2 separate regions of the Homo sapiens genome follow, and region 2 is linked to region 1. Evidence: fine-mapped expression QTL. A gene starts in region 1. The other region holds a variant in brackets. All regions are shown on one strand. Distances are from middle to middle.

Region 1 (5,508 bases):
GAGGCAACGGCCATTCTTTTCTCCCACATCCACAGACAAGGCCCTATTCTTCCCTCTTCCTCAGTCCCCTCAGCCCCAAGCACAGGCTTAGAAAAAGACTCGACGGCTGATGAGCGTGTCTCCACAGAAACTGCTGGAACAGAGCCCTGCTCACAGAGGAGCAAGAGGCGGAGACAGGCTGGCCGCCCCTCCCTGCTCTCTGGATGTGGTGAGCAGCCGCAGGCAGAAGCCCCAAGCTCTGCTCCTTCTCACACCACACCCCAGCCACCACCTAGAGCAGTGGAGACATTCACTTTCTGCTGAAAACCCTGCCCCACTGAGGAGCACACATCCTGGTCTAGCACCAGCAAGAGGTGCCTCCTACCTGGGGCCCTGCAAAGGGGCAGGCTTGGCTGAGGTGGGAAGCCCGACCTGGGCCCCACCGCGTCGCTGTCCGAAGGAGGCTGGGCCACATCCGTGCTGGGCAGGGTCTTGGTCTCAGCCCCAACTGGGGTCCCTGTCCCTCTACCCTGGGAGGTCTGAGGGGCATCCCCAGGGTTCCACCCTCGGTGCTGGGGCAGCCGTGGCGCCGTCTCTTTGTCCCATGGCCACTTGACTGCCAGCGCACTGTCCAGCAAGAAGGCCTTGCAGCTGGAGCTGGTATCCATGGTGTAGTCGTGGCCCTGGTCGCAGCCCCACACGACCTGGATGACGCCGCAGTACTCGGAGGACAGTGTCCTCTGAAGGTGGGGCAGGGCCCCGCAGCTGGCCGCATGTCCATGCACCCACCCCACCAAGCCGTGCAGGCACTGGGGGCTGGATGTGATCAGATCCACTGCAGAGAGTCAACAGAGATGTCAGATCCACGGCTGGTCGGCACCCAGCCCACCCTCCACCGGGGGAGGACTCACCCAGACACGCTCCCTCCTCTGCCCCTGTTGGGGGCTGGGCACCGACCCTGCAAAGGATCAGTGTGGCCATGAGCAGGACAAGCAGGCGGAGGTTCACAGCGCTCGTCGTACGGGACCCTCTCGAGATCTCAAACCTCAGCGGTCCCCATAGGCAACTTTCTCTTCCCTCACCCCAGCTCCTCCCAGTTCATCTCTCCACAACAGTCCCAGGGCTGTTGGCACTGAACCCGGGCATGGCCCATTCCCCCCACCCAGAGGCTCCCGCGGAGGCACGCCCTGTCCCTCTCTCAACACCCGTCACACTGCAGTACTGACAGCCTGAACGTGCTCTGAACAGACTAGGGCGTACTTTGCACAAGGCTTCCGGCGACCAGCCGGGGAGGCGTTGACCCTCTGCAGGAAGGACTTGAGAAGGCTGTGGCACTGGTAGAACTGGGCGTGGCAGCTCTTGCAGACAAACGGAGACAAGGTGGGGTCCTGGCGGACAGCCACACCAAGCAGGCGCTGGAAGTCCCGTACGAGCACGCGCTCCTCTGCGGATGGCCTCTCCATGCTCGCTCCAGGCGCCCTCTCGGAGATGCTGCGCAGGCTTCTCGAGGAAAACTTCCCGTGGCAGAGGCGACAGTGACCCATGGCGAGAGCCCGGCCTGCTCCTGCACAGAGCGGCAGGAAGTGTTAGCAGCTGGCAAAGGAGGCTCCTGAGCACAGGGCGTCCCGGACTCCAGGTCCGAGGGCAGCGCCTGCAGCGCCCTTCGCGCGGCTCCCGGACACAGCAAGCGGCTCGGGCGCGCGGCTCTCGGCGGGACAAGCCGCCCTGTGGGGGATGTGGCCGCTGGTCCAAGAAATCTTTCAAATTTCAAAGGCCTCTAAGGCCTCTCCAGCGAAGCAACTTCAAGAGTGAAACCTGGAACTGCACCCTCCTCCCAGCGACCGCGAGACCCGGGGCAGGCGCTGCGCCCTCCAGGAAACGCCGCGGTTTCCTGTCTGCCAATTGCAGGTGCCGCCTCCTTTCCGGCTCCGCGAGGGCACGAAGCAGGGGAGGGCGATTCCCACGCGCGGGCACCCCAGGGCGACCTGCCCGCGGTGACAGCGCTCCTCACGCCGGGTCCCTTCTGGCCGAGCCCGCGGCCGGGGAGGCCGGGCCGGCGACGCCGGCGTCACGGAGCGCGAGGAAAACCGAGCCGGCCGCCCAGCGCCTATCCCGACGCAGCCCCGAGTCCGCTACGCCCTTGGCCGGGTGGAGGAGAGGCCGCGCCGGCTTCCGGGCGTCAGTGCGGCTCCTCCCACGAGCAACCCCTGCCGCGACCCCAACCCGCCACGCCCGGGCCGCGGACCCACCTGCCTCGTCCGCGCCGTCCTCGCCCGCGTCCCCGCAGGACCCCACCGGGCCCCAGGCGCGCCGCGCCGTCGCCCCGTCCACCCTCGGCCCACCGCTAAGGGAAGGGCGGCCCCGAGTCCGGCTGACGCCGCCGCCGCCGTCCGAGGCCCCGCACTGTCGGGACGACCCAGGAGACAGGAAGCGGCCCAGCCGGTCCCGCTTCATGGCAGCGGAGGACGCCAGCAGAATCCCGCGGGTGCTGCCCGGCCCGAGGTTCCTAGAGGACCCGGCGTTAGGCTCCGCTCGGCGCGCTGGAAGCGAGGCGGGGCGGGGGAGGGGCGGAGCGAGAAGCAAAGCGAGGCGGGCGGGGCGGGCCAGGGGCCAGGGGCGGGACCCCGCCGGCCGAGGTTCCACCCGCGGTGCCAGCGCCCCCGCTCGTACCGCTCCCCTCTCGGGCCCGAGGGCGGCCGTGCCCGCCTCTGTCGCCAATGGAGCGCTGGCCTGGGGCGGGGCGGTGGGCGGAGGGGCTCGCCGACACCTCACGACGAGTCCTCCAGGGAGAGGCGACGCGGCCCTCACCGCCTCTTACCGTGGGAGACGGAGGCGCGGGGCGGGCAGGCGCCGGCGGAGGCCACGCGGCGCGCAGGTGGCGGGCGGGCTGCAGAAAGGGGAGGGGGGCCGGGGTCTCACGTAGAGAGGGGCCTGGCTGCCGCGGTTAGACGCCCATGGCAACTCCGTGAGGGGCCCTTCTCGCCAGCCCCGTCTCAAGACGGCGAAGAGGCCCGGCTCCGTCGCGACAACCCACCCGGACTCTGCCGCCCCCGCCACTAACACCCGTGGGGCCCGCAGTACGCGCGGAGGGGGCCCGTCGCCGGAAGTGCGGCCGCGTCCCTTCCTGCGGTCCGCTGCTCGGGCGGCTCCAGCACCAGCGCCGGCTGCGTTCCGGGCCTCCGGTCGCCCGTCCAGCCCCTCGGCTACCGCCGCCGCCTCCCCCGCTCGGCGCCATGGCCGCTGCGGCCGGGGACGGCACGGTGAAGCCGCTGCAGAGCGCCATGAAGCTTGCCAACGGGGCCATCGAGCTGGACACCGGCAACCGGCCCCGGGTGAGGCGGGGCGGGGGCGGGGCTTGGCCGCTGAGGGTGGCCCCTGGAGGGACCCCCGCCCGGGGAGGGCGAGGACGGGGCCGGCTCGGGCTGGAGACTTGGGAGCGGGCGCCAGCCGGGATCCCGGGCCGCGGTTCCCGGGCGAGGACGGGGGCGGGGCGCAGCCGGGCGTGCAGTGACCTTGGACAGCTCAGATCCTGCGGACCTTGGCTTTCCACTCCGCTCGCTGAGCCGGTGCATCACAGCCTGGGCTCCACCTGTAGAGGAGATGTAGCAGGAGGGTCCGCCAGGCCACCTTCCAAAATCCGAGTGACGGGCAGGTCCGTGCGTTCGTGCATTTTTCTGGGCAGAGATGGTAGATTTAATCCGGTTGCCACAGGGGACGGCATGCAGAGAAGGCCACATACCTGCTCATTTGTGATGCTGTTTGCAGTCGTCTTAGGAAGGAAAAGCAGGCCGGAGGGGTGTGGCCCGTTCCTGAGATGGGGCCGAATCTAAGGTTGGCGACCAGGTAGAGAAGCTGGCCCAGCCACACCCGGCTGCCCAAGGAGGGAAGGAGCCTGCCTGTGCCTAGGAGAAGCCTCGTTCCTGAATCTGCTGCTTTCCCCAAGTTGGTTTTTAGGGCAGCAGGTGCCCCCGCAAGTCAGAAATCCTGCCTGGATTATATTTCGTCTTTCTCTCTGAGGCATAGACTTAAAGATAGGAAACTTAACAGCTAGGGATAAAACAAAAAAACATAGCATATTGCTGGGCGCTGTGGTTCACGCCTGTAATCCTGACACTTTGGGAGGCCCAGGCGGTGGATCACCTGAGGTGAGGAGTTTGAGACCAGCCTGGCCAACGTGGTGAAACCCCGTCTCTACTAAAAATACAAAAATTAGCTGGGTGTGGCGGTGCACACCTGTAATCCTAGCTCCTTGGGAGGCTGAGGGATGAGAATCACTTGAACCCAGGAGGCGGAGGTTGCAGTGACTCGAGATCCTGCCACTGCACTCCAGCCTGGGCGACAGAGTGAGACTCTGTCTCAACAAAACAAAACAAACCACCATTCTGTGGTTCCAATGACCTGTGCCTTGTCAGAGGGGTCACACAGCCTTGAAAGGTAACAGTTCTAGGCTCCTGTGTGCACTGGAAATACGTAACTCGCAGGTTCTGGGAAAGGGATTTCTCGGAACTTAAACCGGGAAGTGATTTGAAAACTTCCAGTATCACTCCCTTTATCCTCTCAGAAAAGTATTTTTTTAAGCCACTGAATGAATCACCCTTGAGTTGCACAAGAAGGAAACATTGCATAGAATGAAAAATGACAGCAAACTGCTGAGGTCACTTCCCCAGGCCCACTGAATGAGAATATCAGTTCCTGTGCTGGAGAGAAAGGCAGTCAGAGGAGAAAATGAGGTCCAGCTCGTCCCTGGCTCTCTCTCTCTCTCAGGTCCTGATGTCTTTTCCAAGTCTGGAGAGCAGCGATGCTGCCTGTGCCCTGCGCAGAAAACCGTGTTCCGGCTGCAGCTAACCACCGCAGGCTCAATGTCTCTGGGTGTATCTCAGAGATAAGCAGGTGGTGGTGTTCCTTGCTTATCCCACAAGGGCACCTGGCCGGAATAATGGAGTCACTTCCCTCCACTGGCCTGACCCCACTCTTTCTCTTTCCTGGACACAGGAGGCATACACGGAATACCTGAGGAGCATCCACTATATCTCCCAGGTGTTACTAGAAGAAGTGGAAACCACTAAAGGTACGGCTCAGCCAGCCGGGCGCGGTGGCTCACGCCTGTAATCCCAGCACTGTGGGAGGCAGAGGCGGGCTATCACCTGAGGTCAGGAGATCGAAACCATCCTGGCTAACATGGTGAAACCCCGTCTCTACTAAAAATCTAAAAAATCAGCTGGGCCTGGTGGCGGGTGTCTGTAGTCCCAGCTACTCGGGAGGCTGAGGCAGGAGAATTGCTTGAACCCGGGAGCAGAGGTTGCAGTGAGCCGAGATCACCCCATTGTACTCCAGCCTGGAACAAGAGCGAAACTCCGTCTCAAAAAAAAAAAAAAGAAAAGAAAAAGAAAAAGGCATGGCTGAGCCCTGCTGCTTCCTCCATGCTGGACAAATTGTGGGCATCCTAGCCCTTGATGGGTGCCAGGCTTCGGCGGGGGTCTCTTGTATCCTTCTAGCCTGACCATTTGTAGTAGGTGGACCAGCCCACAC
Region 2 (5,000 bases), 25 kb before region 1:
AGCAGTTCTTCCACTTGGTCAACTCTGAGATGGTAGGTGCCCCGTGTGCACGTGTCCGTCCGATCTGTCAGTGCCTGTGGCGCTAACAGCAGCTCTTGCAGCCTCCATGCGTGTACTGACCGTGTGAATTACTGAGGAAAGGGTTCAAAGTCAAATAGGGAACAGTGTCTGGAATGCCATGTGAGGGAGGACCCCACCCACAGCCAGGACGGCGACCAGCACATCACCAAACCAGCTGTAGGTTGCCTTCTCCCAAGTTTGAGTTCCTTTAGTTTCCCTCAAGTTTTAATGATTTTGACACATGGAATCGTACAGACCATTTTGTGTGCCACGCACCTCGGTTCATTTATTTCTAATCTCAACATGCTTCATGTGTAAAAAAAGCCTTGTGGTGATCTGACTACCGCTGTTGCCTGCCAGGCAGCCCAGTTATCTTCCATTTTAGACACTGCCCAGCGTGAGTTGCAGGGTGATCTTAACCAGCAGGCTGGGTGCGGTGGCTCACGCCCGTAATCCCAGCACTCTGGAAAGGTGGGGGATCACTTGAGCCCAGGAGTTCGAGACCAGCCTGGGCAACATGACAAAACCCTGTTTCTACAAAAAATAGAAAAATTAGCTGGGTATGGTGGTGCACGCCTGTACTCCCACCTACTTGAGAGGCTGGGTCAGGAGGAGTAATTGAGCCCAGGAGGCAGAGTTGCACTGAGCCAAGATCCCACCACTACACTCCAGCCTGGGTGACAGAGCGAAACTCTTGTCTCAAATAAAAAGAAGTGACACTCGCTGTGGGGACGGGCAGCGTAGGGACCCAGTTGGTCAGAGCTGGGGAGACGGATACCAGCCCCTCCCACTCTACAGAGAGCAGCTTCTGCTCCCGAAGGCCTTTTTCTTGTTTTTGAAGATGCACAAATGTGAGAGATGGAATTCAGGTTCCATGCCAGCTGTGCAGCATTTTATATTTTTATTTATTTATTTATTTATTTATTTTTTGAGACAGAGTCTTGCTCTGTCGCCCAGGCTGGAGTGCAGCAGTGAAATCTTGGCTCACCCTGCAACCTCCGCCTCCCAGGTTCAAGCGATTCTCCTGCCTCAGCCTCCTGAGTAGCTGGGACTACAGGTGCCTGCCGCCATGACCGGCTAAGTTTTGTATTTTTAGTAGAGATGACGTTTTACCATGTTGGTCAGTCTGGTCTTGAACTCCTGACCTCGTGATCCACCCGCCTTGGCCTCCCAAAGTGCTGGGATTACAGGTGTGAGCCCGGCCTTGTGCAGCACTTCAAAATGTGACAAGGAAAGCAGAGGACGTGAGACTAGCAAAAGCTTTCAGAAAATCACTATGGTCTCCTTTGAATTCTTATGAATGGCTGTTTTTCAGAAAGCTCTCAGTTGGCACGTGACAGCCGACAGACAGGAAAACACCATAGACAGCACTTGGTTAGTGAAGGGACCAGAGGATGGTTGGCCCTTGGTATTAGTGTCGTCCTCACCACAGTTCTACGCTCCGGGTGCGTCCCCTTCCCTGCGGCTGCTTGTGCCTCCCTGGCTTCTTCCTGGAGCCTACAAGACTGTTTGGGCCAGAGCTGGTGGGCTGCAGGATCTGGCCGCCCAGGGAAGCCGTTAAGTTTCAGGACAGCACAGCCAGGGCGCCAGGCCCGGTCAGCCCAGGAGCACCATCCATGGTGGCCACGCCAAGCCTTAGCGAGTGTTTTTCTCAAAACTGAATCCACAGCAGCCACTCTGCATGTTGGTCTCGCCTCTCTTCCTGTGGGCTTTTCTTACCTGCCTTGAACTCTTTTGCAGAGAAACTTCTGCTCCCACGGAGGTGCCCTGACACAGGACATCACTGCCCACTTCTTCAGGGTGAGATGCTCCCTCAGCCCCTCTCGTGGCCTTCTCAGAACGCCGTGGGTGGATCCTCCTGTCAGCTTCCTGTGAGTTCCTTCACTCTACTAGTTGTGGGTCCTCACAAACCGCTGACCTCCTGCTGCGTTCTCTCCTGCAGGGCCTCCTGAACGCCTGTCTGCGGAGCAGAGACCCCTCCCTGATGGTCGACTTCATACTGGCCAAGTGCCAGACGAAATGCCCCTTAATTTTGACCTCTGCTCTGGTGGGTCAGCTGTCTTGTTTGGTGTTTTGTTTTGGGGATGAGTGGGAGACTCCACAGCTGCCTCTGGCATCTCTGCAGCACGTCTCCATCACGGGTGTTACCATCTCAGGGAAAATGCATCAGGAGACATGGAAGCCA[CAG/G]TTAAAGATGCCAGCTCATAGCAGATGAGGGCCGCACATCCTGAGTTCCCAGAACCGTCCCTGCCCCCACCGCCGTCACCATGGCACCCGCAGGACTTCTCCCCTGTGGACCCCACTCAGACCCCACGGGCACCTTCATGTCCACAGGGGTGCAGGGCTTGTTTGTTCACGGTCTTGGGTTGTGCACTGGCTGGAGGCTGTACGGTGGCTGCCTGTGCCCCGTCACGAGAGCATGACTGTGGCCCACTTGCGCCTGACTATGCTTTCTTGGGACTTCGGAGCAGAGACTTCACCTCAGCTCCCGCCAGAGCTCAGCAGGCTCCCCTAGCAGCCCAGGGTCCCGAGAGTGGGAGGAGGGCAGCATTTCCCTCACTTCCCTGGCGGCTCACTTAGTCCTGAAGACCACAGCTGTCGCCCTTCCTTCTCGGTCATCAGGGACAGGAGGGCCTTTTTCTCCGCAGCACGGCATGTTCCCCAGGGAGCTCCCCAAGCAGGCTGCATTTGCACCGAGTTGTAGCTCAGTTGGTGGAATTCGTGAGAAATGAACTCTTCGGTGTTTAGAACGCCACCTCTCAGCTGAGGGCATCCAAGGACCAGGCATTCCCAGCTCAGGGCAGTGTGGTCTCTTCACTGTTTCGTTCCCAGCTCAGAGGAGTGTGGTCCCTTCACTGTTTCGTTCCCAGCTCAGGGCAGTGTGGTCCCTTCACTGTTTTGTTCCCAGCTCAGAGGAGTGTGGTCCCTTCACTGTTTTGTTCCCAGCTCAGGGCAGTGTGGTCCCTTCACTGTTTTGTTCCCAGCTCAGAGGAGTGTGGTCCCTTCACTGTTTCGTTCCCAGCTCAGGGCAGTGTGGTCCCTTCACTGTTTTGTTCCCAGCTCAGAGGAGTGTGGTCCCTTCACTGTTTCGTTCCCAGCTCAGGGCAGTGTGGTCCCTTCACTGTTTCGTTCCCAGCTCAGAGGAGTGTGGTCCCTTCACTGTTTTGTTCCCAGCTCAGAGGAGTGTGGTCCCTTCACTGTTTTGTTCCCAGCTCAGAGGAGTGTGGTCCCTTCACTGTTTCATTCCCAGCTCAGGGGACTGTGGTCCCTTCACTGTTTCGTTCCCAGCTCAGGGGAGTGTGGTCCCTTCACTGTTGCGTTAGGCCAGGCTCTTCCTTCTCCAAATTCCACGTCTTCCATGAGTGTGGGTAATAAATGCCTCATGGAACTGCTTTGAGCCTTAATTGACGTAAAAAATACTGGCTTTGGAGTTCCAGAGCGCAGGGCGAGTGTGGGCCTGTAGTGGCCTGTAGGAGCACTGGGGGCTTGTCATGGCTGGGGCAGCGGAGGTGTGTCCATCTCAGCCACCCTCATCTGTGTGCTGGTGCTCTCTCCATAGGTGTGGTGGCCGAGCCTGGAGCCTGTGCTGCTCTGCCGGTGGAGGAGACACTGCCAGAGCCCGCTGCCCCGGGAACTGCAGAAGCTACAAGAAGGCCGGCAGTTTGCCAGCGAGTACGTGTGGGTGGTGAGATGGGGTGTGCCCGCCCAGATGCACTTCGGGACCTGCTCAAGGTCATCTCCTAAACACCCTGGCTTGCTTGAGAGAAGCGGTGTGGGCAGCCTCTCGTGTGAGCAGGGAGAAAAGAACCGAGTTCTCGTGGTGGTGGGCGCCTGTAATCCCAACTACTGGGGAGGCCGAGGCAGGAGAATCAGTTGAACCCAGGAGGTGGAGTTTCCAGTGAGCCGAGATCACTCCAACGGCCAATAGAGCAAGACTCTGTCCAGAAAAAAAACAAAAAAAAAAACAGCCTCTGCCAGTGTCTCGTCTGAGTGAGGAACGGCCTCTCCCAGGCTCCCGTCTGAGTGAGGAGCTCGAGTGATTCCTTTGCACCTGCTCCCCTTCCTCTTAAATCTAATGTGGGCTCCTAGAGTGCACCGCGTGCTGGTAGGGTCAGTGTCATGGGGACCTCAGGGATGCAGATTCTCAGCCTACCCTGACCTGTCGACCCCAGTCAGATATTCACGGGTCCTTGCAAACCATCAAGCTCCTGGCGCAATCCAGGCTCACACACCCTTCTGAGGACCACAGAGCTGACAGCCACTCCACCTGCTGAATGTGGGTGCCGTGTTCTTAAGGGGTCGTCAGAGGGCACTGCTAGTACCCATCCTGCCTCCTTGGAGAACACCTTACTTTGTGACTAGTTTTGAATCACTGATGCCACACCGGGTCCCCTCAGGGTTTGGCTGCTCGCCGTCTGCTGAAAGAAGAGAAGAGGGCCCCGGCGCGGTGGCGCACACCTGTAATCCCAGCACTTTGGGAGGCCAAGGCAGGTGGATCACCTGAGGTCAGGAGTTTGAGACCAGCCTGGCCAACATGTGAAACAATCTCTACTGAAAATACAGAAATGAGCTGGGTGTGATAGTGTGCGCCTGTAGTCCCAGCTACTCAGGAGGCTGAGGCAGGAGAATTGCTTGAACCCAGGAGGTGGAGGTTGCAGTGAGCCGAGATCATGCCATTGTAGTCCAGCATGGGCAATGAGAGAGAAACTCCATCTCAAAAAAGGAGAAAGCAGGTCACACCTCCAGTTCTAATTCTACAAACACAGATCAGATTGTCTGAAGTTTTGTTTTTTGTTTTGTTTTGTTTGAGACAGAGTTTCACTCTTGTCACCCACCCTAGAGTGAGATGGCACGATCTCGGCTCACCATGACCTCCGCCTCCCAGGTTCAAGCGATCCTCCTGCCTCAGTCTCCTGAGTAGCTGGGATTACAGGCGTGAG

What was found. PIP is the estimated chance that this variant, and not a neighbour inherited with it, causes the effect. A credible set is the group of variants that fine-mapping cannot tell apart.
Region 2: its variant is the best candidate, but not a certain one, in a credible set for the expression of ZNF276 in visceral fat (GTEx, PIP 0.61).

The regions. Positions count from the first base shown.
Region 1 is chr16:89,718,566-89,724,073 of GRCh38, reverse strand. It overlaps ZNF276 (zinc finger protein 276), which reads right to left and starts at 2,537. Exons shown (of 11, transcript NM_001113525.2): 1 at 2,229-2,537; 2 at 1,240-1,543; 3 at 891-937; 4 at 365-814. The coding sequence starts at 2,433. It overlaps VPS9D1 (VPS9 domain containing 1), which reads left to right and starts at 3,176. Exons shown (of 15, transcript NM_004913.3): 1 at 3,176-3,311; 2 at 4,972-5,047. The coding sequence starts at 3,213. RefSeq lists silencers at 1,910-2,369, 2,450-3,569, a cis regulatory region at 4,879 and an enhancer at 4,795-4,964.
Region 2 is chr16:89,743,691-89,748,690 of GRCh38, reverse strand. It overlaps FANCA (FA complementation group A), which reads left to right. Exons shown (of 43, transcript NM_000135.4): 33 at 1-32; 34 at 1,801-1,860; 35 at 2,003-2,107; 36 at 3,620-3,732. Among named protein-coding and RNA genes, the nearest start is that of ZNF276, 25 kb to the right of the region's middle. RefSeq lists enhancers at 1,821-1,990, 4,387-4,556. The variant CAG/G (reference allele first, on the strand shown) is at 2,246.